Linked DNA regions of Homo sapiens. The protein of the gene in region 2 interacts with the protein of the main gene of each other region in a biochemical or structural test. Each region holds a gene or a part of one and is shown on either strand. Other genes may lie near its edges.

Region 1 (3,500 bases), on a different chromosome or scaffold from region 2:
GGTGAAACCTCATCTGTACTAAAAATACAAAAATTAGCTGAGCATGATGGCGTGCACTTATAGTCCCAGCTACTCAGGAGGCTGAGGCAGGAGAATCGCTTGAGCCCAGGAGGCAGAGGTTGCAGTGAGCTGAGATTGTGTCACTGCACTCCAGCCTGGGCGACAGAGTGAGACTCTATCTTAAAATAATAATAATAATAATGATAATAATAAGAATAGACAGGGCACGGTGGCTCATGCCTGTAATCCCAGAACTTTGGGAGGCCGAGGCAGGTGGATCACGAGGTCAGAGTTTAAGACCAGTCTGACCAACATGGTGAAACCCTGTCTCTATTAAAAATACAAAAATTAGCTGGGCATGGTGGTGGGCATCTGTAATCCCAGCTACTCAGGAGGCTGAGGCAGGAGAATCAATTGAACCCGGGAGGCGGAGGTTCCAGTGAGCTGAGATTGTGCCACTGCACTCCAGCCTGAGCGACAGAGCAAGATTCCGTATATATATATATAATAAAATACATATAATAATGTTGAGAATAGGAAGATAATTAAACAAATCAGTAAACTGAAAACAAAATTATATCAGGCAGATAAATGACATGAGTGTAACATAAAAAATCTAGAATACATTGAACTTGTTTTTGTAAAATGGGAAAAAGACAATAAAAATAATATACTAATCACACTGTGATCTTTTACTAGTTATGAATCCATTAAGGACAGCAGTTCTGCTCATTTTTCTTTTTATTCTCAGTTTCAAGTGGGGTACTTGGAACATATTAGGAGTTCAAAGTGTTTAGTTGAATGAATATGTGACTTCAAGGCAAAATGATGTTAATAATCTCAAACTATGCTATGAGAAATGTTGCACAAGTTATACTATGGGAAATGTGTCAACAGCAGCCATAAGACCAAGGATAATCTCTACGATTATTCAGAATATACAGGTGTAATCACGCCATCCAGTACGCAAATAAAACTGATGGCTTACATCATGTCATCTTCATCCTATAGTGATAGCCTAAGTATTCAAATAGATACATTAATATTTTAGAGTAAAAAAAATTACTTATTGGGGAAGCTACCTCAGTTTGTTTTCAGCTGGCATATTGATAAGCAACACACATTTTTTACTCTTAAATTTCTGCAATTAGTTTGAAGTAGTGCCTGGGTCAACATTTGAATACTACTGTACTGTATTAACAATTGTCCCCAAGCTTCCCAAACTGGATATATTCTTAATGGAAAAACATTTTATTTATTCCCTCTGCTTCATTTGAGATGATCATTTGCTCTAAAAAATTACCATGATAGAGATGATGGATTAAACCCTTTGATTTTGTTTTCATCTTCATTTATGGTTACACATTAAAAAAAGAACAAGCAACATATCAAATGATGTAGTTCAAATTGTTGGCCCTACCTGCTCCACCTCATTGGCAGTGGGCTGCATTGCTTCATTATGCTCTTCTTCCAACATCTCCAAGTTTAACTCCTCTAAGAATTCATTCCTTTCATCTTCCAGCCAGCCTTCATCCAGCTGCAAAAGAATACATTAGTACATTATATTATGTTAGTGAGAACTCATGTTAAAATAGAGTAAACTTAAATGGCCGGTGCCCGACGAGTTCCTTTTATCATAATGATTCTCTTCAGAATACCAGCCTCCCACAGTTCACCTCTCAGAAAGAAGAAAAGGTGATAAAAAAAAAAAAAAAGGACTCTTATGCCTTTTATCCTTTCCTGAAATGGGACTACAGATTTTCTCTCATAACCAAGTAAATCTCACAGCACAGAATATTACCTTCTTTCAAAATGTATGAAAAGCATCCTGCATAATCCACAGCTGTCATGCTCATTACCTCCAACAGTCCCGTGTTAAAAGGACTGCCATGCTACTAATTGGGCTATGAGACAATTGGGCTGTTTTCTTTAACAACAACCCCCAACGAGACTGCACACAAAGTTCCCCCCATACGCTCGTGCTATCCTCATCCTGCTTTTTTCTTTTTAGGTGGGCTCCCATGTCAACAAGATGGCTGCTTGCCACAAAAGAATGTACAGAAGACATTTATTTTGTCTGTGAAGAAAGGAAAATTCTAAGTTATTCTTCTCAAGGAAAGGAAAGAAAAGCAATATTACTCCATGTCTATTTTAATTTGTTTTCAGGCCCAATTTTATAGGAAAAACACCTCAGTGGATGCGACATTTAAGGGTGGTGGAGTGGTGTGGGGCATGCAGGGTTTTGTTTATGGGTGTTGAAAACAAGTATTCTTGTAGGACTCTTAATGCAAATTGAACTGAACAAATCCCTTCGGCTTTTCAATACAAAGTGAAGTGGAAAACTGGTGGTTACCTGGCTAATATGATCTAATATGATCAGTGTTGACAGTTACTACAGATAATTTGCCTCAAAGTGGATTTTTGGAGCTGGATTACATAAATTAGCTGTCTATGCTGATTAAATTAACTGGATTATCGTCAAAACTCTGCATCACCCTGTACAAAGAAATAGCATTCTAGTGAGCAAACATGGATAATAGTTTGAGATATTTTCACCACCAATGAACTGGCAAAATAAGCTTTTAAACATAACTGAACTTCTACAACTTAAAAACAAACTGGAAAGGACATTCAGCTGCACCAAAAGAGGCATTAGCATACAGGTATCATCTTTATTAATATGCAGGCAAATCATAGATTTCATGATATCTATTAAAGGCCATGTAGAACTTAAATGACCTCAAACTTAACTGGGGCCCAAAGTGCTGGCACATTTGTTCATCCTCATTTATCTTAATGTCGCCTGAATAATTTGATCAAATTCCTGTGACTTTGATATGCAGATGAGCTATGAAAATTATGCCAAGTAAAAATGTAAATTCAGCCCAATTTATAATTGTTCAAATTTTACATTCTTTAATCTTTTTCAAGTATCATAAAGCTACAAATGCCAGACATCATAAAAAATTACTTAAAATGGGGAGTGCTTACTATTCACAAACACATCAAGGAATTTTTCTTTAATCAGGTCAAAATAAAGTATTTTCTAACACTGATATATTGAATGATGAAACAGAGTCCTTTGAGGATTAAATGAAGTAGTGGGGAAAATAAAGAGAAAATGGTCAAAATTAATGATTCCCCATAACTCTTTTCTTATTGAGTAATCCAGTAGATTCCTGAGTTGCCAGCCATAGTCATTATATGTCTATTTTGATAAGGCTTTCTTTTAGGCTGGAGGTGCACACAGCACAATTAGCAAAGGGAGATTCTTCTTGCTCACTTCCTTCTTCTCTCCTATTTCCCCCTTTCTACCTAGATGTACATTCACTATGGTCTGAGTCTAATGTAACGGCAGAGACAGACATCTCCCTTGAGCTGAGCTGCAGGAAAAGAGGGATTGTTACTACTAAGAGTGGGGATCTATCTGCACCAAAGGGGGCCACATGTGGCATCTCAGAAAAAGGAACAACCTACACTGTCTCAAAGGTAGTGGCTAC
Region 2 (3,635 bases):
CCCCAGTCCACCCAGCCAGAGTGATACCCACCTGAGGGCACCGTATTCCAGGGCCACAGGCTCCTCCAGGTCTTCCCATTCACTCCCACTCTCTGGGGACTCTTCTGGAGGCAAAGACTCTGGGACAGTGCCCCAAGAGCAGAACTGTGGCAAGGGAATGGTCCCAGAATCTGCCTCCAAACATTCTTCACAGGGTAGCTGGCCTTGGCATGTAGAGTTGATGGTAAGATACTCTTCATCCTCCGAGGTGGGAGAAGGGGCTCCACATGGATGGTACATGTCACCTTCCCCATCCTCCCCATCCAATTCAGGACTAGAATACAGAAGCCCATGTTTCTTCCAGCCTTGATAAAAAAAATTCCTCACCCCACCTTCCCCTTGCCTTTTAGAATACTCTGCACGACACAGGCCCGTGAGACTCAGCCAGTGTTCAAACAGCTCATGCCAGAGGCTGCTCTGGGCACCAGGAAGCAAGAAACTTATAAGGCACCAACCCTGGCTTTGAGGAGCCCCCAATTTAATGAGAAGTTGGAGCAGTAAAGAAATGTTACAGTCCATGTAGGAAGTGCTATGATAGAAGCAGCTGGAGCACCTTACCGAGCTCAGGAGACCGGGGGGATGGGGGGGCTTGCCAGAGGGCACAGCATTGCAAGCAGGGCAATGACCCAGTTCTAAGACAGACTCGTCACATGGCAAGCAGAGTCGGTCAGACTTTGGACAAGTTTATTGACTTCTTTGGAACCTCAGTTTTCTCATTTGACAAAACTAGATGGTCAAGAAGCGTCTAGGATTATTGGGACACGTAAATTACATAATTCTGACACAGCCCCCCCAACTCTGGGTTCCTGGTATGGGGTAAGTTTTTAGTAAATGTGAGATGCTGTGATTAGTACTGTGAATATGATGGCTATTTCAACAGAAGAATTATAAAGAAAGGGCTTCAGGAAGGGATTGGGAGTGACTCAAGCAGGCAACCATCAAAGCACTTTGTGCAAAGATCAGGTCCTTTTCTGAGCACTGAAAATTTGCCTATTTAGAGATGCGGCAAGCTGAAGTGACATTTACTCCCCGCGGAAGGACACAGGAGGCAGACGAGTGGTGAAGCTCATTATCTGGTGATGCAGCCGCAGACGTAATGGTCAAAGAACAAGACTTCCAGGGGCTGCCCCAAGTTCGCCACACACGCCTCTTGATTAGAAAGAATAGTCCATGCAAAGGTAGGGCATTTTACACAGCACTGCAGACATGCAGAGAAGGTGCTCAGAAAATATCTGTCGAAAGTCTGGTTAGAGGAGATGAGAAGGAATATCTAAGAGAAAAGCACAAAGATTTAGCAAATACATGGATCCTCATTTCTCAGCCTCCTTACCCCCACCCAAATCAATGGGTTGGCTTTATTATGTGCTGCTGCTCTCCTTCTCCTTTCCTGCATTGCCTCTTTCTCTTAAAATTGGCTCTGGTGCACCCCAATAGCTACAAACCCTTAGATACCCAGAGAGCACGTCCTCCTCCCCAGTAGAGCCGGAAGCATCTGTCCCAAACTGAGCTTCACTGTGAAAGAGACATTATTTCCACTCATGAGAGCTACAAGGTATGTGAAATAGTGAATTTCATGTAAATATATGCACACTCAAGTGTATAAAAAAGAAATTATTCTACAAAGACTGAAGAGGAACACTCACTGTCAAAAGACATTTTTAATTCTTGAGCATTTGCAGGGAAAATTGACTTTAAGCTTGGCTAAATCATGTAGAAACTGTGTTTTCTTATAAACATGGGAAAGAAACATTCAAGAAGTTTTATCAAAGAATGGGAAATCTAGCCTATTGCCCAGGCCTAGGCTCACCACTGTCCCCACCACCTCAAGCAGCACCCCCTTCCCTCCGTTCTGAGCTCACTAAGCCTTGTTGAGGAGTGGAAGATGGCAGCTGTGTGTGTCCATTGGCCACTGCAGCTGCCTCAGTGTCCACACCTCACCTCCCACCCGTAGACTCCCTCCACCTCTTCTAATAAGCTCCTTGCCCTCTGGTTTTGATTCGGAGCTCCAGCTACTGGCTCTGCCTGGACAGAGACCTAGGGAAGCCATCAGCCTGAGAGGCAAGAGGCAAGGCTTCATCTGAGGTTCAACCAAAGAAAAAGCGATTTGCTCCCCACTTGTCCAGGGGGACTTGGTGGTCCCAAGGGTGAAATCTTGGCCATCATCCCACCACAAGTTGGGAGAACGACTGCCTTTCCTTCTATCCTTTTGCACGTGCCATCAGGCTGCCCTTGGAGATTTGACCTGGGGCTCAACTGTGGACATAGGGAAAGGGTGAATAGGGAATAAAGAGGCACCAGAAGCCTGTATGCCTATTTCACGGAAAGGGCAAGACTTGGAAATTTGGAGAATTTCATTAAGATAGAGACATTCTTTCACAGCAAGCCTCATGTTTTGCATGTGGACATGATGGGTAAAGAGGTGGAGTTCTTCACCCAGGGTTCAAGGCCGGCCAGCTCATGGCTAATGTAGCAGGACTTTCAGCAAGACCCTGATGCTGTCGGAGTACACGGGGCTCTCTGCTCACCCCCTGATTCTGTGTAATGATCTCAGCTTCTTCCTGCCCTCACTCTCTGCCCACCAAGCTGTCCAACAGAAGGAGGCTTTTATAGACAGATGATAACTAGAGGAGAATCTGGAGATTTCACGTGGGCTTCCTGGCCAGCCATGTCTCCCATACAAACCAGCAGGACCCCAGAACCAGGGTCCCCACCAAGTCCTGAAACTCTTCAGTGGGTATTTTTAAGAGGAATCCCAGTTCAGCTCTGAAGTCAGTGAAACCATTCTGAAGGCTCTGCTTGCTACAGAATGTTTACTGAGAAAAGACACTGTGCCCAACTTTTCTGGACAGCTGTCCTTTAAAGACTTGGGCCACCAAATTCATCTCTGCCTTTCAGGAGGAAATTCATAGAAGCAGATTGGGCATTTCAGGCTTGAAATATGAAGGTATTATAATTGTCCTATTTACTTACGGTTAAACTCACAACAAAGTTTGGGGTTTGTGTCCCTTCATGTCTCCAGTTCTCCAACATCAGGCCCCATATTGAGGTCTCCATTAGCCCTGATGACACAGCTGGGAGCCCCAGGTCTCTGCTCCTGACAACTGCATTTAGTTTTGGCAGGTTGGATTTACAGTATCTCTAAGACATCAAAGTAAACAAGTTCAACGGACTGCCAGATTTGAAGCTCAGATGATAAATCTGAGCTGAAGTACAATACTTAGGATTTGTCACAGTAGTGTGGACAGATACCCCTGGGTATCTGGGGATACCCAAGGATAGCCCTGGGAGCCTGTAAGGTGTAAAGAGAATCCTGCTAGAGGCAGCACCCAGGATCCAGCCCAGGCTCTGCTGCCTCCCTCACTCCCCTCAGCCACACTCCAACCCAAGAGCAGGCATGACATCTCCCTCACCTGGCAACTGCATCCCTCCCTAACTACTCTGACATCACACCTGGCCTGGCCCCTGCAGTTGAGTGAGATCTCTGGCCTCCTAATTATCTTTTGCTATTCCAGGCAGTGCCCTTCCCCAGAAGGTATATCATAACTTTAGGTTCATTTCCAGGAGTCCTGCTTTATTTTGCTTTCTTAAATAAATGA
Region 3 (3,500 bases), on a different chromosome or scaffold from region 2:
CCCTTGTGTACCACTCTGAGCACTGCATTCGCAGCTGCTGGGACACAGGTGGGTGCCTGCGGAGGACGGCAGAGGGAACACAAGTGGTTCCGGGTGTGGGGGGAACAAAGAAAGGCCTTTTCTTCAGAGGCCAGGAGAGCGACCTCAGGGCTGTAACGATCTGAGCAGAAGGGCAAGGGGTCATGGGCAGCCCCCTCCCAGCAGGGCAGGCTGCAGAGTCCCAGAGCTGGAGGAAGACACACCTGGCTTCCAGGAGAGAGCGTGTCAGTGATGCACAGGGAAGCACTGGGGAAATCACCTCTTTGAGCCTCACTTTTTGTCTTCCTAAACTGGAATTAATAATATCTGCATCTGTGTGATGCCTTCAGCATTAAAGGAGGCACTGTGTGTGTTACACGTCCTCACTAGGTGCGGAGCAGGGCAGAGTGGGCGCTTGCCAGGGCGTGCACAGCCCCAGGCACCTGTGCCGAGTCTGCTGTAGTGCTTTGCCCTGCGTCGGCATCCCTTGGGCCCCCATCTGAGGTGATCAATGCACCCAGAGGGTCTCCAGGGCTCCCTTCTGGGCCCCTCACAGGGTGGCCTCTTTACACTGATGTCCTCCAGCCTTATCTGTGCCCTAATCTCCCTTCGAGCTGCCACTGGGTGATCATCTATCTGTCCCATGAATCGGTGGTTCCCCCTTACCTATGGGGGATGCTTTCCAAGACCCCCAGCGGATGCCTGAAACCAGAGATACGACTGAACCTTACATACATGATAGTTTTCCTATATGCGAATAACTATGATAAAGTTTATTTTATAAATTAGACACAGTAAGATATTAACAACAATGAATAATGAAGTAAAACAATTGTAACAACGTACTCTATAAAAGTTATATGAACTAGTCTCTCTCTCTCTCTCAGTATCTTACTGTACTGTACCTTAGGTAACTGAAAGCTCAGATCAGGGCAAGAGATTGTATCTCAAAGTCACCCTCTTCCCCATAGAGATTCTTCCTACATCCTTCCTCTTGATCTTGTTCCTACAATTCTACAATGAACATGAATTGCTTCTGCAATAATGAAATAGGGCAAAGACAACTTATTTTTAAACTTGTAAGTGAAGAGTAGCCTATTCTTCTGACTTAAAAGGCCAAAAGAGTAAGAGAAAGATAGAGACAGAAAATGAGAGAGACACAGAGAGAGAGAGAGAGAGAGAGAGAGAAAGACAGCAAGTAGTGCATGACCTGAGCCTCCCTAGCATCTACTCCAGCTGTGTTAGTGAAGTCCCACAGGGAGAGGTAGAGGCTGCCCCTGCAGATGCCCAGCCCAGGGAGTCCTCCCGTGACAGACAGAACTGCTAAGGAACCAGGACTGCCAACGTAGAGGAGGATCAGAGCCCTGGGAGCAAGGGGCAGATTCAGGCAGGGAGAGCAGAGGCAGTGGGCTTCAGCCCCTCAACCTCCAATGGGCTGAGCTCAGGTCACAGGGTGACTTCCATGGGCCAAGGTGCTTTACCTTATGGGTCCCTTCTCCTCCCAAATATTAGAAATCATATTGTATAGCTGCACTGGTATAAAGGCAAATGTACTATTTGATCTTAGAGGTTCATTTCCTTCCTTCTGATTTTAAAAGAAGCTCTAATACTGTTGTGGGCCTCTAGAAGCACTGTGGTCTCTGAGCACTGCGTCTGGGGTCAGGCCCTGGCTGAGCTTTCAATGTAGAGGGGGAAGAGAAGGAGGTGTGAGGGGCTGGTAGGTTCTCTGGAAGTCACATCCACTTGCTAGTTTCGGTATCATCACATGCAAAATGGAGATAAAAATACCTCCCTGGGGCTGCCAGAGGGCTAAATGAGATGGCGTCTGTGGAGTGGAGCCTCATCTCTACTCTCTGAGACAGGGCTACTGTCACCAGATGAGGAGGATGGCTCAGGATAGTGTAAAGAATCAGTGACAAAGAAAAAAAAAAGACTATGAAAATTTTTTAAAAAGGGAATACTCAGGATTTTCAACCATAACTGAAATTAATTTCGCTAAAATGAGAAGTTTTGCCGAAGTTGAAGGAAAGGGATTAATATGACAAATCCATCCAGGGCATGATCAAGCAAGGCCTGGCTCCCCTCCCAGGAGTTTGGGACCTGGAAAAGCTGGAAAAGGCTGAGAAGGAGCTTTCTCCAGAGAGAGAGAGAGAGAGAGAGAGAGAGAGAGAGAGAGAGAGAGAGAGAGACCAGAACCTTAGAGAGACCCAGCTCCAAGCCCATTCAAAGGGGAGCATGAAGGAAAAAGGAGAAATGACTGCCTAAAGAAGACATTGAAAGGTAGAGCGCATGAGGGCCAGGTGAGCCGAGGGAAGGAGGCCCCCGGCTTCACACTCAGGGGAGGGGCACTGGCAGACAGGGGAGAGGTCAGGGGCTGAGCTGAGAGGAGCTTAGAGTGCACCAGGGTCAGGGCCTTGCCCAGGGCAGGGAGAGGGTGCAGTGAATGCTGGGGCCCAGGGCACTCTTTGCAGACCTTGTTTGCCTACATGGATGGACCTTCACATCCCTCCATCCGTTTGCTGACTCATTCACTCATTCCTTCACTCATACGGTGCTTTCAAAGAGCCTACTCTTCTCCATGGAGAACCAGATGGCCCAGGTATGAGTGGTTGAGGGGCTGGTGCCCCGATGAGGTGGGGGCAAAGATGACCTCTCTCCAGGGTGATGTGAGGAAATGGAGCTCCGGAAGGTAAGAGGCTTGCTCCCCATCACACAGCTGGCGTGCGTGGCCAAGAGCAGGGCCTGCGTGTGTTTTCTGGGCTGTCTCCACCGCAGTGCTGACTCTTGGATAAAAACATGAAGGAGGCTGGGCGTGGTGGCTCATGCCTATAATCCCAGCACTTTGGGAGGCCAAGGTGGGCAGATCAGGAGGTCAGGAGATTGAGACAATCCTGGCCAACAAGGTGAAACCACATCTCTACTAAAAATACAAAAATTAGCTGGGCGTGGTGGCACATGTCTGTAATCCCAGCAACTCGGGAGGCTGAGGCAGGAGAATTGCTTGAACCAGGGAGTCGGAGGTTGCAGTGAGCCAAGATCATGTCACTGCACTCCAGCCTGGGGACAGAACAAGATTCCATCTCAAAAGAAAAACAAAAACAATAAAAACCATGAAGGAGCAGCATCGGGAGCGAGAGGGCCTTTCCCTGGTCTCTGTGGGACCACACAGATGCAGATGGCCCCCTGTCATTGGGTATGACTTTCAGTGGCAAAGGGGCAAACATCTGAGGAGTCTGGAGAGCAAGGAGGGAGCAGGGCAGTGGGGAGGAAGCTGGCGTTTAAGCACACACGCACACACTCAGTGAGCGGAAGCAATTAAGCACAATTATGAGCACATACCAGGCACTACACTAGGATGTTTATCTGTGAGAATGCACTGAATCCTCCGAACAAAGCCCTGAGGTAGAGACTGTTATTAGCTCCATTGACAGGTTCAGGACTAGCCGTAGAATTTGCAGAGCCCAGTGCAAAATAAAAACATG
Region 4 (3,500 bases), on a different chromosome or scaffold from region 2:
TGCAGCTCGCTGCACTAAAAGTGGAAGATATTTTCCATTACAGCAAGTGCTCCCACAGAAGGATCACGAGCCACACACGGAGCCTTACTCTCCAAATAGGCGCCCATGGCCCAGTCGTCCCTTAGCCTAAGAACTCAGAGAGCCAGGCTGTAATAATGGGGCTGCCGTGTGAGCACAGCAGCCATCGAGCTGCTCCGGTTCATTTCCCAGAGGTTGAGCTGCAGTGTGTCCAGTATTTAAAAGTATGGAACTTGTTTCAGGGCTGACCCATTCTTGCCCAATTCATCTTCCCCGTGTGAAGTTATTTAGCAAACAGCCAAGTTCAGCTGGAAATCGTTTTTCATCCCCTCCAACTTCTAGTCACATGGGCAGCTGGCCAGCTACATGTTAACAAGCGCCTCAGAACTCCTAAGACACCACCGGCCTCTGTTCCCTTCAGTGCATTCTTGTAAATAAATAAATAATAAAACCTGCCTTTACCACCCCCTCCAAGGTGTGGATCTTGTAAAAAGCGTGACCCAGTTTTGCAATCTACAGAGGCAGCTTGGGGAGCAGTTGTAAATCTTTGTCAGGCAGGTGTTACCTCTATGCATCCCAGCTTTCAGAAACAGAGCTGATGCTATTCATCATGCTGCGGAAGGTACAGACACCCCCTTCTAGTTTTCATCCTAGGTGCAAGTCAGGGCCCCAACATGGGCACTGTCAGTATGCAGACCTCTTTCAGCCACTGGAGGAGGGAGGTGGGGTCAATGAACCTGAACCTCCTGGACATGCGCCACACTGGTCTGCACCGGATTGTGGGCACCAGGTGGGATGTGTGAGTGGCATGCCTACCACTGGTCCCGGGCACCCACAACCAACATGGCTGGCCAACATCCGCAACAGCAGAGGGGGCAGACCTAAGTCACAAGTTATTCATTTCACTCCCACCCCCAACAGGCAGAATGCTTTAAGGGAATTAATATTAGGAATAAAAATGCTTTCTTCCTGGTGGGAGGTGAGGATGGAGGAAATCGTTATTTATTGAAGAACTATGACATACCAGGAACTATGCTCCATCTATGCTGCACATATACAATACAAACACAAGATACACATTTTTCATCTATAAAAAGCTTAGAATAGTGCCTAGCACATACCAAGTGCTATATAGTGTTAACTACAGTCGATGATGTTATTATCTCAAATTCTCACCATAGGGTAGGCATTATTACTGAGAGAACACATAGCTAGAAGAAAAGTGAAACCAGAATTCATTTTTTCCAGGGTACTGCTGTTAGGCAAATTTAAAAAAAAGTATGTAATAGTCAAACAGATTTATGGAAATGTAAAAACAATTTGTGGAAAGATTTAATTCACTACAAAAGTTCCTGAATAATCAGTCATAGGAAAGGGGCTGTAACCTGAAGCGTAAATCAAATACTAGTAACCTGTGAGTTACCAATGTGCTTTTCAACAGATACCTCAAATGTACATGTTAATAGAAAAGTATAAGCTGGGCACAGTGACTCACACCTGTAATCCCAGCACTTTGGGAGGTTGAGGCAGGAGGATCGCTTGAGCCCAGGAGTTTGAGACCAGCCTGGGCAACAGAGGGAGACCCCATCTCTACAAAAAAATACAAAAATTTCCAGGTGGTGGCACACACCTGTAGTCCCAGCTACTTGGGAGGCTGAGGTGGGAGGATCACTGGAGCCCAGGGAGGTTGGGGCTGCAGTGAGCCCTGATGGCGCCATAGCACTCCAGCCTAGGTGACAGAGAGAGACTTTGTCTAAAAAGGAAAAAAAAGGAAAAAGAAAAATAGATTTTTCATTTACTGTGAACAAGATATATTAAACTACATATATCCTATCATGCCAATTTTGAAAAGAGACAGAGGTGATGTATATTTTAAGACTAGAAGGAATAACATCAAGATATTCACACTAAGAAGGTTGTATTGTGTATGAGCTTTATATTCCTCACACGATAAGAATCTAAGAAAAGAAACATCATCCACACACAGTCACACATACCCTGTTCAATGTGAAATTTATTCTTTCTCCTCCCTGCTCTTTCTCCTGTATCCCTGTGCTGCTCAACAGCTTCACCACCCACCCACCATCCGCAGCATAAGCCTAGGAGCCATCCTGGACTGTTTCTCCCTCAACTCCCATGGGTGAGCATGTTCACACCTCAAGCTGCCTTCCAGCCACACCATCTCCTGCACCAGCCCTCTGCCTGGCCTACCACCTCCCTTGGTACCCAGAGGCTGGCCAGCCCAACCCACCCACCAAGGCAAAGGCTGGGTTCACCTTTGGTATGCAGGAAGTCAAGGGCAGCAGCAACGTCCCGCACCACTCGGCTGGCTTCTCGCTCATTGAAGTGCTTTTGCTTCTGGATGTGGGCTAAGATGGAACCTGGGGAGCAGAGGGGACATAGAAGAATGCCTTTTTGGGCTCTAGTAAGTATAAGTTTTTTTTTTAGACGAAGTCTCACTCTGTTACCCAGGCTGGAGAGTAGTGGCACGATCTCGGCTCACTGCAACCTCCGCCTCCGGGTTCAAGCGATTCTCCTGTCTCAGCCTCCTGAGTAGCTGGGATTACAGGCAGGCACCACCATGTCCAGCTAATTTTTGTACTTTTTTTTTTTAGTAGAGATGGGGTTTCACCATGTTGGTCAGGCTGGTCTCGAACTCCCGACCAAGTGATCCGCCTGCCTCAGCCTCCCAAACTGTTGGGATTACAGGCGTGAGCCACTGCGCCTGGCCGTATAACTTCTTAGAGGCCAAGTTTTCCCAAGTTTGGAAAACTTGGGGTGGGGACATAGGGATTCATCGCTGACTCATCACTACCTGTCCAGCTCCAAGTGTGGGGCCTGGTACGGAGGAGGTACCAGCTTGTATGTCTGTTAAACAAAACTGGACTACTCTCTTCTGTACCTGTCTATGAGGAGCTCAGAAGCGAGAGAGAACAACTATAAATAGGGCCAAAAAACACTAATGATGCTGAGGCTGATTTGGCTTCTGCAATCAAAAGGAATAAAACTGAAGGCACTTGGAGCTGAGGGGGCCTTTCTGCAGCAACGTTTTCTCCCCTGCATCTGATCTCTGATCCAAACAAGAGCACAAACTTTCAAATGGAAATGCCACACCCTTGCCAGACATGTAAAGGCCTGGGAAAAGGGGGGAAAAATGGGTTTTCCGCCTGAGCTTTCCCATTCATTATTGTTTTGTTGGCAATGGCTAACATTTACTGAGTAGTTACTAGTGCCATGTGCTATGGAATACTCTTGAAATAAACTGTCTTATTCTCACCACAATTGGACAAAATGGGTAGTACACTTATTCTCGTTTTACAGAGGGAGATCCTGAAGCCAAAAAGAAAAATGGTTGAGCAACTTGCCCAAGATTACGCACCAGTAAGGGGTGAGGCCAGGACTTAGGCCCAGGGCGTCAGTCAGGCCTCCGAGTCTGTGCAGACATCCCCCAGCAGGACTTGTGGTCTGACTGCTGCAGGGAT
Region 5 (3,982 bases), on a different chromosome or scaffold from region 2:
GGGGGCTGGGCCGCATTGGCGGGCACGGGTGTTTGGTGCCCAGCCTGAGGTTGTGGCAGCAGTTCCTGCCCTGAAGGAGGAGGGGGCTGCTCAGAGGGGCCTGGGCAGAAAACAGGAACCCAGGCCCCCAGCCTGGTCCTCCACCACCCGTGTTGGCTTCCGGCCCCCTCCGAGACCATCAAAGCTGCTTCCGCTTTCCAGGCCACTTCCTTGTCTGCCTAGGGCTAAAGTTTCCAGCCCCCTCCCCAGCTTAGCTGGGCAAGGCTAGAGGCTGGGCTGTTGGGTCTTGGTCCTGAGGGTCCTGGAGCCTGGGCAGCCCTGGGACTGCCAGGGTCCCCCAGTCGCCACCCACACACCTTAGCTTTGGCCTGGGCCCAGAGTAAGGGTCCCACCAGGACCTAGCCCAACCGGACAGATGACTTGTATTGGCTGGGACGGGAAACCCAGGGGCCACTGGTGTCTGGGTCCTGCCCACTTAACAAAGGGAGGACGTCCTGTCCCCAGAGACCTTCCTCCTTGCCCCTCCCACTTCCTTCAGGGTCCCTGGAGAGCTGATCACCCAGAGAGGTCTGATCTCAGTGCCCTGGACCTCAAGGCCTCAATACCACAAGGACACATGGGTTCCCAGGGAGGCAGCGGCAGGGCAGCAGGAATGGCAAGAGGACTTCCTTCAGCACAGGAAGTAGCCCCAACTGTGGGCCCAGCCCTCTGCCAGGCCCCCACATCCTGAGGAAGGTGCTGGGGTCACAGCAGCTGTCATGGGACCCCAGTCACCCTGCCCTGAAGGACAGGCCAACTCACCTTCTTGCAGGCTACTGTGCCCAGGCTTGGGGGCAAGAGGAGTCACAATGACAGGGACCCATAGGGACCTCTGCCTACCTGGTCTCACTGATGCAGACAGGGAGGTCTGAACCCCATGTGACAGATGGTCAGATGAGGTCCAGAGGAGATGCTCTTGCCTGAAGCAATTCCGTGTCAGAGCTAGGATGTGAGCCTGGGTCTGCCCATCTCCAGGCCCTAAGCAGGGCTGCACCTGCCCACTGCTGTCTGTGTGCGTAGGTTTTGGGGGGTGGGTGTTGGGCTGAGGTTCAAGGTCTCACAGGATGCAAGATTGAGACACCCAAAGCCCCAGGGACCTGCTAAGTGCGGAAACGTGACGCCAGAGGCAGGTGCAAATGGTGGTGTGAGAACTTGAGGGAAGCCACACCCAGGCAAGCCCTGGATGGAGTAGGCAGTGAGGACAGGGAGCTGGGGAACCTCCACTGGGGGTACAGGCATCTAATGGTGGGTCTTCATGCAGCATCCAGCAACATCATGCGGGGCTGGGCCGGAGGGGGGTGGAGGAGGGGCTCCACACACCCTTCGTCTGGGGCCTCCAGAACCAAGCAAGAGTCGGCTCCCCAGCCCAGGTGCTTCTACCTTGATTTCTCCTGAATAAACTCCCATGCTGACCTTGAGCCTCTGTTTTCTCATCTCTAAAATGGGGTTAACTGGCCGGGTGCGGTGGCTGTGGCCTGTAATCCCAGCACTTTGGGAGGCCAAGGCGGGGGGATCACCTGAGGTCAGGAGTTCAAGACCAGCCTAGCTAACATGGTGAAACCCTGTCTCTACTAAAAACATAAAAATTAGCCGGGTGTGGTGGTGCGCACCTGTAGTCCCAGCCACTCAGGAGGCTGAGGCAGGAGAATCGCTTAAACCTGGGAGGCAGAGGTTGCAGTGAGCCGAGATCGCGCCACTGAACTCCAGCCTGCGGGACAGAGTGAGACTGTCTCCAAAAAAACAAAGAAAAAAATTGGGTTTAATTATTTCTGTCCCCTCCCAAGGCTGCTGAGAGACTGAGAAGAATGAGGTGAGTGTCGCTAGCTATGTGTGTGTGTGACGGGTGTAGCCCCTGGCTCCATGAGCCAAGCTCTGGGCACATTCAGCGCTCGGGCCTGGGCTATAGTGTGTGAAGGAGTAGGAGGGCATGAGGGAGGGGGTCTGTGCAAGCCCCGCTCCTTGTGGGCTGAGCTCTGCACGCTTGGAAGTGAGATCTGTGCATGTGTGCACCCAGCCTGTGCGCTGCCTCTTGCTGTGGCCCAGTGCCAGGCTCTGGCGCTGCCTTGAGGGGTGTTCTCGGGCTCTGCCCCCCACCCTGAAGCTTCACACAGGGTCCATTGAGGCTAGGACATTCCTCCGGGCCTGTGTCACTAGGGGTGGGGGGAAAGGGCCGGCCCCGCCCCCACAGATCCGGAAGGCCTGGCTGCCCCAGGAGGAGGAGCTGGCCACTTCCCAGCACATCTGGAGGTCATGACCCCATTTCGGCTGCCAGGGGGCGCGACAGATGTTTCCTCCCAGGCCAGGCCAGGGACTGGGGTGGAGGCCGCCTAAGAAGAAGAGGAGCCTCAGAATAAGGGGGAGCCCCGCACACACTTGCAGTGTTGAGGGGGAGGGGGTCACAGTGCCGCCACCAGGAGTCAGGAGCCGCCGCTTCCACTCACCGGCTGGCTGGCCAGGCTAAGCCGTCACACAGAGAGAGTAGGAACGGCTGGTCAGAGACAGGGGGCTGGACATATTGACTCGGGACTGAGCTGGAGCCCGGAGGGAAGTTGGGAGGGTGCTGGCGGCGAACGTGGCGAGGACCCCACTCCCATACACATCACCCGGGCCCACGGCTAGGCCACCTCTCCCCTGTCGGGCCCGACAGTAGTGCCTCCCGTCCCCTGCTCCCGCCAGTACCTCTGGGGCTCCCGCCCAGCCGCCGCCGCCCGCGCTGGGGTCCCGCTGCCGCTCTCCCGCTACCGCTCCCGGCGCCGGCTCCGCCTGGGGGCGGGGCCATGCTGGGAGGCGGGGCCATGCCGGGAGGCGGGGCCGGCCGGGAGCTGTCTGCGGCGGGAAGCGCAGCAGCGGGGATTCCAGGCCTGGCGGAGGTCAGCACCGAGCAGTGCTCATTCTAAGGCCATTTCCTCTCCTGAGAAACTTGTGCCTGCCTTCCAGACCAACCGGGAGGGCTAGCGGAGGCCACCTAGCGTCCAGCTCCCGGCCAGCAGGTGCTCAAGAGTCTGCCACTATTTTATGGAGCACTTGCTAAGCACTGGGCCCTGGGCAACCATTCCACTAGCGCGCTCTCATTTATTCTAAAAACACCTTAGATAGGTGTCATCTCTTTACGCCCTGGAGCAGCTGAGGTGCAGAGAAAGGCTTTGGCCAAGAACAAGCCTGATAAATGTAGGAGCCACCAGACCTGGAAGTCTGACCATATGGTGGGAAATGGCAGACAATACCCTTCAGATAAAGGCTTGAAAAGGGAGCAGCCATGCGGTGAAGAGGACCCGGTTCTACCTGAACCCCACCTTGGTCTGCCCTTGATCTCTACTAGACTTCAGCCCCACATCCTTCACCCCTCTGCGTGCTTGTCCATCCCAACTTAGCCGCCTGTACTATCATGTACCCATTCCCAGGTAGAAAAAGAAACTGCCAACCAAAATCAAAAATAGTGTTATTAATTCTGATGTCTCCGAAGCACAAAAAAAAAAAAAAAAAAGAAAAGAAAAAAAAGGAAAGAAAGAAACCACCCTTCCCACAATTCAGGCCCCAGGTCCAGGCCAAGGGGGCCACACCTGCAGGCAGTGCAGGCCCAGGGGCTGAGGTGGTCCTGGCCACAGGCTCCAAGTGGGACCAGCCCATGGTTTGGCTCTTAGGGCCTGGCTGGGAGGCTGACTGCCTCCATCTGGGGAGCCCAGGCCCTGGACTGGGGATGAGAGAGATCAGGGGTCAAGGTCAGAGGTCTGGGTCACTCAGTTTTGGTACTCTGGCCAAGGCAGCCAAAGGTCAGGGTTCAGACATGTAGGCCAAAGCCACTCAGTTCTGTGGTCCAGCAGAGAGGCAGCAGAGCAGGTCCGTTACTGAATCCTAGGAGGTGGTCCAGTGGGCGCCAGGTAGCTCAGTACTGGTGTTCCAGCAGGGGCTGGGCTGCCGGGCTCTCACGCTCCTCAATAGGGGC
Region 6 (3,500 bases), on a different chromosome or scaffold from region 2:
CACTCACCCTGACATTTAAGACACCCTCATGGGCTGGGTCCTACCAGGCTCTCAAGCCTCAATCCTGCTTCCCACAAATCTTGAACGTCCCATTCCTCCGAGCATTTCCTGGAAAGTCGTGACTCTGGGGCTTTGCTCATACTGTTCTGTCTGCTTGGAATGCCTCATTCACCCTTACCCTTCCTTTCAAACTCCTACTCATCCTGCAAAGCCCAAACTCAAAGGGCCCAGAGGCTTTCCCTAACTCCCAACCTCAAACTACTGTGTCACTCTGCAGTCCCAGGCACAGCTCCCCAGAACCCTGTATTAAAAGTATTTGTTTACTCAGCTGAGATCTTCAGGGACCTGAATATGTCCTTGGTGCCCAGCAAAGGGCCTGACATGGCTTTTATGGACAGAGTGATGGCATGGAGGAGCTAGTGGGGTAGTGCAAGTACCCAAGGCACTCTGAGTGGCCTCCCAGGCTCTAACCCCTCAGTCCCTCTGCCCCAGGGCCCCCACACTGGCTGTGAAGGGGCTGCCTCATCCTCCCTCTAGGGATCCCTTCAGGTGCTCAGGCCCCAGCTTGGGTCCAGAAGCCATAGCCCACTGTAGCTCAGCCAGAGCCACATCCCAGCTGGAGGAACCCAGGCCCAGAGAAGTCACCAGGGTTTGAAGCCCAGCCTCGATCAGCTCACAAACACCACAGCCTCTTCCTAGGAACCACCACCCACCAACCTCCCCCTGCCCAGGGCCCACATTCCTCCATACCTGCCAGGAGCCACAGGTGGCCCAGGAAGGTCCACAGAGCCCCCGGCTCCATTGCCATGCCCTCCAGACAGGTTGAGAGTGGTGGGCGGGCACTGAGGCTGGGGAAGTGGGGAGGAGGCAGAGCTCCCTGCCTGGCCCAGCTGCCTCCTTCGGAGCCTGCTCAGGAATGCCAGGCACTGGCCTCCCCCATGCCCAGCATGGCCTAAAGGGAGGGAGGATGGGCAAAGAGCCCAGCCCTGCAGCTGGGGTCCCCCCTCCCTGGCTCTGACCTCAGAGGTCTGCCCTCCCTGTCACCCAACAGTGAGCTCAACTGGGAGAGGAGCCGGGTTCCCGCTGATAGTGGTGAACCTGGGGGATGACACCCCCTCATCCTCTCAGCTGTAAGATGGGGTTTTAAACCCCTGCCTCATGGGGCTGTGGCAAGGAAAAAACAAAATGCAGAGCAAATGCTTCCCAGAGGCCAGACGTGCTGTGTGGGCCCACTGTGTGCCAGGTACCCAGGAGGCCATGGCTCTTGGAGCAGGACTTGGGGAACCTCGGCCCATGGAGGCAGTGGATGGGCCTTCGGGACCCCCAGGAGTGTCAGCCATCCAGGGCTGGGGGACACTGAGTCCCACCATCTTCAGGCGAGTGAGAGAGGGGAAGAGGTGACCACCATCTCTTTCCCCTGGTGGAGGAGCCTGTGCCCAGGAGCCTGCCAGGGGGAGGAGGCAGTGTGCCCCAGCAGGAATGCGGGCGGGTGTGAGGGAGGTGTCGCAGGCATTCCAGAGGGGGCAGGGACGTTCAGTGTTGGCGGTGGAGCTCCCTGGGCTCACCGGGGTCCTGTGTCTGTGCATCTGCGTGTACCCAAGGCAGGGGCAGACTTCTGAACCCCCAACTCCTGCCTGACAGGCCCCAGCTCCCCAAAGGTCAGAGTCATCCTTCTACAGATGCTGCCCCCTAACTCTCTGCAATAGCCCCCCTTTCCTTCTCTGTCCTGGCTGAACCACCTCCGTCTTCCCTGAAGACCATCCCTCCACACGTTCTCCCAGACAACCTCAGCCCACTATGGCCCCAGCTGCCAGGACTACACTCCTGAGCCCCAGTCTCACCTCCAAAGCGAGTCCCAGTTCAGCCACCCTCAGCGGTCACCTGGGCCACCATACCCACCTCCTCCCTGATCTCCTTGACCCCATCAATCCACACATCCAGACAGAAGGGACCTTCTCACCTGAGGACCACCAATTCTGATGGTCCCAGGGCCCACCCCACCCCAGACACCTGCGTAGCCATCTGGGCAGTGACACTGGAAGCCATTGGGCAGGTCCTGGCAGTGGCCTCCGTTGAGGCATGGCCGTGAGGCACACTCGTCCACCTCCACACCGCAGTCGGCTCCTGTAAGAGGCCCAGCTGTGGGTCCCACCTGCACCCTCAGAGCCAGGCAGGGGCTGAGAGGGTCCATTCTATAGCTAGAGAGACTGAGTCCAAGAGAGAGGGCAGACTCGGGTGTGGGGTGTGGGGTGGGGGGGTGGGGGGGGTGGGGGGGTGGGCACAAGATCCCTCCCTGGGCATCTGGACATGGGCTGACCGCTTCCCCAGCAGGGGCTCACCCTCAAAGCCAGGAGGGCAGTGGCACAGGAAACCCGCAGCATGGCGGAAGCTGAAGGCGCCAGGGAAGGCGGCCTGGACACCCCCGTAGAGGGCCGGGTCAGAGCGCTGCAGGCATCGGCCCCCATGCTGGCAGGGGCTCGATGCACACTCGTCCTCGTCCACCTCGCACAGCTCGCCGCTGTAGCCTGGGGGCACACACACGCGGACATCAGGTCTCACGGGGTTGCCGGGCAGCACCTCTTCACTATGACCAGGCTAGCGAGGGCCAGCAAGGGACCGCAGCTCGGAATAAGCCACGAATGGCGAGGGAGGGACACACTAAGGGCCGCAGGAATGACCACGGCAGCCTTCAGCAGCAGTGGCCTATTACTGCTATTACTAGTCTTACTACTAATTTTTTTTTTTTTTTTTTGAGATAGAATCTCACTCTGTTGCCCAGGCTGGAGTGCAGCGGCATGATCTCTGCTCACCTCCACCTCCCAGGTTCAAGCGATTCTCCTGCCTCAGCTTCCTGAGTAGCTAGGACTACAGGTACATGCCACCATGCTTGGCTAATTTTTGTATTTTTAGTAGAGATGGGGTTTCACAATGTTGGCCAGGCTGGTCTTGAACTCCTGACCTCGTGATCCGCCCGCCTCAGCCTCCCAAAGTGCTGGGATTACAGGCTTGAGCCACCGCGCCCGGCCTAGTCTTACTACTATTACTAGCATTAATTACTGAGCCCTTTGCAGCTGTCAGGCCCTCCCCAAGGGCTTCCCAGGCGTCGCACCTTCGAGCTCCCCGCAGCAACCCCAGGAGCAGGCGCTACGATCAGCCCTATTTTGTAGATCAGGAAACTGAGGCTCCGACAGGTTGCAATCACACACACACTCTGGTCCCGAGGACCCAGCGGGCACTCGCGTGCAGCCACACACCTGCCCCACCGCCCCAGGCCGCACAGGCGCACACCTACCCCTCCCCCCGCCAGGCCGCGCACCTGCACGCACACACCTGGCCAACAGAGGCAGCGGAAGCTCCCGAGGCCCTCGAGGCAGGACGCGTTGTGCTCGCAGGGCGCCGATGCGCACTCCAGCACCTCCCGCTCGCAGTGCGTGCCCTCGTAGCCGGTGCCCGCGCAGTCGCACCGGAACCTGGGGAGGGCGCACCGGCGGAGCTGAGCG
Region 7 (3,500 bases), on a different chromosome or scaffold from region 2:
ATTACATCCATGTAGCATGACATTTAAAAGTTTTATACTGTGCACATGCTCATAAAATTTCCATTAACCTGCTTTACACTACCACAAGAAAATGGCTTTTCACTGAATTTGGAAGGTGCATGTTGGGTGGTCTGACCTAAAATTCAGGCTATGTGGCACAAAAAAAATTTGCTGTGTGGCTGCTAATAAATTAGACAGTCATTCTCCAGAAGAGGTTTAGGTTTGTGATAGAATCATTTCACACTTGAGGAATCACAGGCAGCTTGTTCAAAAGAAGTACTAGCAGGAATTTATTTAATAGTCATTACTGACTCCCCTGAGCAACAAAGGACTGGCAGCAAATGTATGTGCATGAATGTACATGGGTGTGCACACACATTAATATCCATTTAGGATATGATATGGCTTGGATGTTTTGTCCCCTCTAAAACTCACATTGATATGTGACCTCCAATGTTGGAGGTGGACCTAGTGTGAGGTGTTTGGGTCATGCAGGCAGATGTTTCATGAATGGCTTGGTGCTGTCCTGGCAGTAATGAGTGAGCTCTCACTCTGAGTTCACAAAAGATCTGTTTAAAAAAGCACCTCCTCCCTCTCTCTCTTGCCCCCTCTCTCACTATGTGACACACTGGCTCCCCTTCACCCTCTGCCATGACTGTACGCTTCCTAAGGACCTCACCAGAGGGAGATACTAGCACTATGCTTCATGTCCAGCATCCAGAACCATGAGCCAAATAAACTTCTTTTCTTTATAAATTACCCTGTCTCAGGTATTTCTTTATAGCAACACAAATGGACGAATACAGGGTATTAGGAAATATCCTAAAATATTAGCAATAATTTTCTAAGTAGAGATATTTTAGAATTACACTAATACGGTACCACTAGACACACAGGCCTATTTACGTAAAATTAAATACTATTTAAAATTCCTTCCTTCAGTCACACTAGTCACATTTCAAGGGCTCTATAGCCACAATAGCTAGTGGCTACTGTATTGGACAGTGCAGATGTAGAACATTTCCATCATTACATAAAGTTCTTTTGGAAAGTGCTGTTCTAGAAGTTTTCTTCATGTTCTTCTTTATACTTTTTCCAAATTTATTACAATATGCATTGTAGTATATTCCACTTATTAACAGGAATAAAAACACTATGAGAAAAGAAAATGAGGTTAAGAGAGGAAACATTACACTAGAGGTGCAGAGGACACATTCTGTGGAGAGAATCCTGGGGATATCATACTAGGTGGGGAAAAGCAGGTGGTTACACAGGCACTCAGGGAAGAACAGGAAAGGCTAAAAAGAGACATGAGAATAATAGACATTCCAAGGTAAGAAAGAACACAGAAATTCTAACAGCAAGGGTGGGGAAGGAGGCAATTAGCAAGAAGTTACAGGTTCTTGTCTCTCCCCACTCACCAGCCATTACAGCTGCTGACCGCTGAGCTGGCTCAAAAGGACATTTCCCCCGGCCACTCTCAAGTCTTTCAACCTGCTGGAACCTGGACACATCCTATAGACCAGAAGGGGGCAATTGGTTTAGGGGTCATAGGGAAGGTTCATGGTGAGAATTACAAAGATGGTCAGATGAAGGAAAAGGTCAATTCCCATTCCTCTCCCCTTCCACTCCCTACCCCCAACTATCATCCCCATATTACCAGTCAGCTATTCCTGATGCCCCCATCTACTCCTGCATTTCTCATCTCTGCTATCCTTTGTTCATCAGTTTATTCCTCTTCCCTCAATTCCCCCAGCAGCCAACACCCACATGCCCTGATGAAGAAATTCCTAGGACAGCCCAAGAAGCACCTAAGAGGCTGAAGGTAGGTCTTTCCTCTGAAACACTGCTGAACTGTAGGGTTTGTAACTGGCTGGAGAATATGCTACATGACAAGAAGGATCAGGAAGAAAGCAGGCCTCCTGAGGACTGGAAACCTTAGAAAGGACAAAGAAAAGTGCAGGCTGATAAAGGACCATCTGAAACCCAGAGGCCTAGAGAGACAAGGGCCATCCTCCTCCTATTCCCCACCCCAAGGATGAAAGACAGAGCTGCATCATACGACCAAGGGCAGAGGACAGGGGAACCAGCAAAGTCAGTAAAGAATGACCTGAAGCTCAGGTCAGAATGTGAGAGTTTGGTAGTAAGTACCTTCCTCACCCAGGGACTCCAGAGGGACTGACATGGGCAAGGAACAAGAGGTGTAAGAGCTTCATCAGGGCCAGCCAGAAGTTACCTTAGTCTAGCATTTGGCACTAAGAGAGGCTTCAAGATAACATCTAAAAACAAGGATGATTTCAACCTAGGACTGAGAGGGAAGTTAACAGTGGCTGGTTGAGAGTCAAAGTTATGGCACGGAAATGCCAGGGATGATATCTTTAGTTCACAAACTGGCGTGGGCATATGGTGTCATTGGAGCCTAATTACTTCCATGGTAGCTGTTGCAGAAATATCGATATATATCCCCTGAAAAATAAGTGTACTACTGGCCCACTCCGATTACTCATCTCTTGTTCTAGATGGCAAACAAGATTCTATTTTACTGAGAGTCTGGAAGAAGGCCTGTTAAAACTTTTGAAGTCCCCAAAAACGGAATGCTGGGTCAGAAGAGTCTGCTGGAATGGAGGACTCCACAGAGGCACAGCACTCCAGCTGTGTGACAGTGGGAGCATCCTCACCTGAGAAGAAAGATGGGTTTGGTGAGAGATTAACAAGATGGTTGGGCACTCTAGAGATGTGGTACTTACCTGCTGCTGCTTCCCTTCTTACCTCTCACCTAAACCATGGCAGTAAACTCCTTTCTCCACATCATCTAGCCACCCCCACCAACCAAGTTATTCTAATACCCACCCAAGATTAATCTGAAGTATTGGTCACTGACTTAATAATAACTTTTTGTGCAAGAGAATGAGAAAATAGTCCACCATTGCCTGGAGTACAACCTCATCAGCCAAACCTACTTATTTTCAACTACTTTTCAAAATGACCTTTGTTCTATCCAAACCAGATCACCTGTTATTCCTGGAAGACAAATAATGTTTTCTATGCCTATAACTACTGCCTTACATTTCTCCAAGGACTAAAGGGATGAACTTTTTCTCAGTTCTCATTCTCTTTAACCCTTATGCACCATTTGATACTTTTGACTCACTCCCTTCCTTGAAATATTCTATTCCTTGACTCTCCTGAAACTCTGCCCTTCTGGAATCCCTCCTATCTGTTATTTCTCCATTTCCTTCTTCTTCTTTCTAGCTCCCACATGTGTATCCTAAGAATCCACCTTTAGTAGCTTTCACATATGCTTCAAAGATCTCATTCATTCTTTCCAGCCAGATATTCTATGCAAATCATTCCCCAAACTCTCCAAATCTGATATCTTCTAAACTCTAGCCCATATTTTTATTTGACTGCTGGACTTCCTCACAGAGATTTCCTATCTGCCCCTTAAAACTCAATATGTTGAAACTAGTTCTTTTTCAGTTTTCCCCAGCAGCATCATC

What was found.
Region 1: the proteins of FRMPD2 (region 2) and PDZRN4 interact in a test that uses a peptide from one of them, tested with the Homo sapiens proteins (one large-scale study listed by IntAct).
Region 3: the proteins of FRMPD2 (region 2) and GYPC interact in a test that uses a peptide from one of them, tested with the Homo sapiens proteins (one large-scale study listed by IntAct).
Region 4: the proteins of FRMPD2 (region 2) and MKNK1 interact in a test that uses a peptide from one of them, tested with the Homo sapiens proteins (one large-scale study listed by IntAct).
Region 5: the proteins of FRMPD2 (region 2) and SIPA1 interact in a test that uses a peptide from one of them, tested with the Homo sapiens proteins (one large-scale study listed by IntAct).
Region 6: the proteins of FRMPD2 (region 2) and CRB2 interact in a test that uses a peptide from one of them, tested with the Homo sapiens proteins (one large-scale study listed by IntAct).
Region 7: the proteins of FRMPD2 (region 2) and SEMA4F interact in a test that uses a peptide from one of them, tested with the Homo sapiens proteins (one large-scale study listed by IntAct).

Annotation. Positions count from the first base shown.
Region 1 is NC_000012.12:41,565,820-41,569,319, reverse strand, and holds part of PDZRN4 (PDZ domain-containing RING finger protein 4), read right to left. Parts: intron 3,490-3,500; exon of another isoform or gene 3,014-3,489; intron 1,538-3,013; coding exon 1,421-1,537; intron 1-1,420.
Region 2 is NC_000010.11:48,156,062-48,159,696, forward strand, and holds the end of FRMPD2 (FERM and PDZ domain-containing protein 2), read right to left. Parts: intron 1,310-3,635; coding exon 1,261-1,309; 3' UTR 501-1,260; downstream 1-500.
Region 3 is NC_000002.12:126,662,658-126,666,157, reverse strand, and holds part of GYPC (glycophorin-C), read right to left. Parts: intron 1-3,500. UniProt on the Homo sapiens protein: This protein is a minor sialoglycoprotein in human erythrocyte membranes. The blood group Gerbich antigens and receptors for Plasmodium falciparum merozoites are most likely located within the extracellular domain.
Region 4 is NC_000001.11:46,569,769-46,573,268, forward strand, and holds part of MKNK1 (MAP kinase-interacting serine/threonine-protein kinase 1), read right to left. Parts: intron 2,400-3,500; coding exon 2,295-2,399; intron 1,772-2,294; coding exon of another isoform or gene 1,649-1,771; intron 488-1,648; exon of another isoform or gene 1-487. UniProt on the Homo sapiens protein: May play a role in the response to environmental stress and cytokines. Appears to regulate translation by phosphorylating EIF4E, thus increasing the affinity of this protein for the 7-methylguanosine-containing mRNA cap.
Region 5 is NC_000011.10:65,636,919-65,640,900, reverse strand, and holds the start of SIPA1 (signal-induced proliferation-associated protein 1), read right to left. Parts: upstream 2,801-3,982; 5' UTR 2,719-2,800; exon of another isoform or gene 71-2,718; 5' UTR 1-70. Other genes in the region: PCNX3 (pecanex-like protein 3), read right to left, coding at 3,923-3,982. UniProt on the Homo sapiens protein: GTPase activator for the nuclear Ras-related regulatory proteins Rap1 and Rap2 in vitro, converting them to the putatively inactive GDP-bound state. Affects cell cycle progression.
Region 6 is NC_000009.12:123,366,197-123,369,696, reverse strand, and holds part of CRB2 (protein crumbs homolog 2 precursor), read right to left. Parts: intron 3,471-3,500; coding exon 3,331-3,470; intron 2,526-3,330; coding exon 2,340-2,525; intron 2,125-2,339; coding exon 2,011-2,124; intron 919-2,010; exon of another isoform or gene 809-918; coding exon of another isoform or gene 751-808; intron 1-750. UniProt on the Homo sapiens protein: Apical polarity protein that plays a central role during the epithelial-to-mesenchymal transition (EMT) at gastrulation, when newly specified mesodermal cells move inside the embryo.
Region 7 is NC_000002.12:74,660,747-74,664,246, reverse strand, and holds part of SEMA4F (semaphorin-4F isoform 1 precursor), read right to left. Parts: intron 1,516-3,500; coding exon 1,422-1,515; intron 1-1,421. UniProt on the Homo sapiens protein: Probable cell surface receptor that regulates oligodendroglial precursor cell migration. Might also regulate differentiation of oligodendroglial precursor cells. Has growth cone collapse activity against retinal ganglion-cell axons.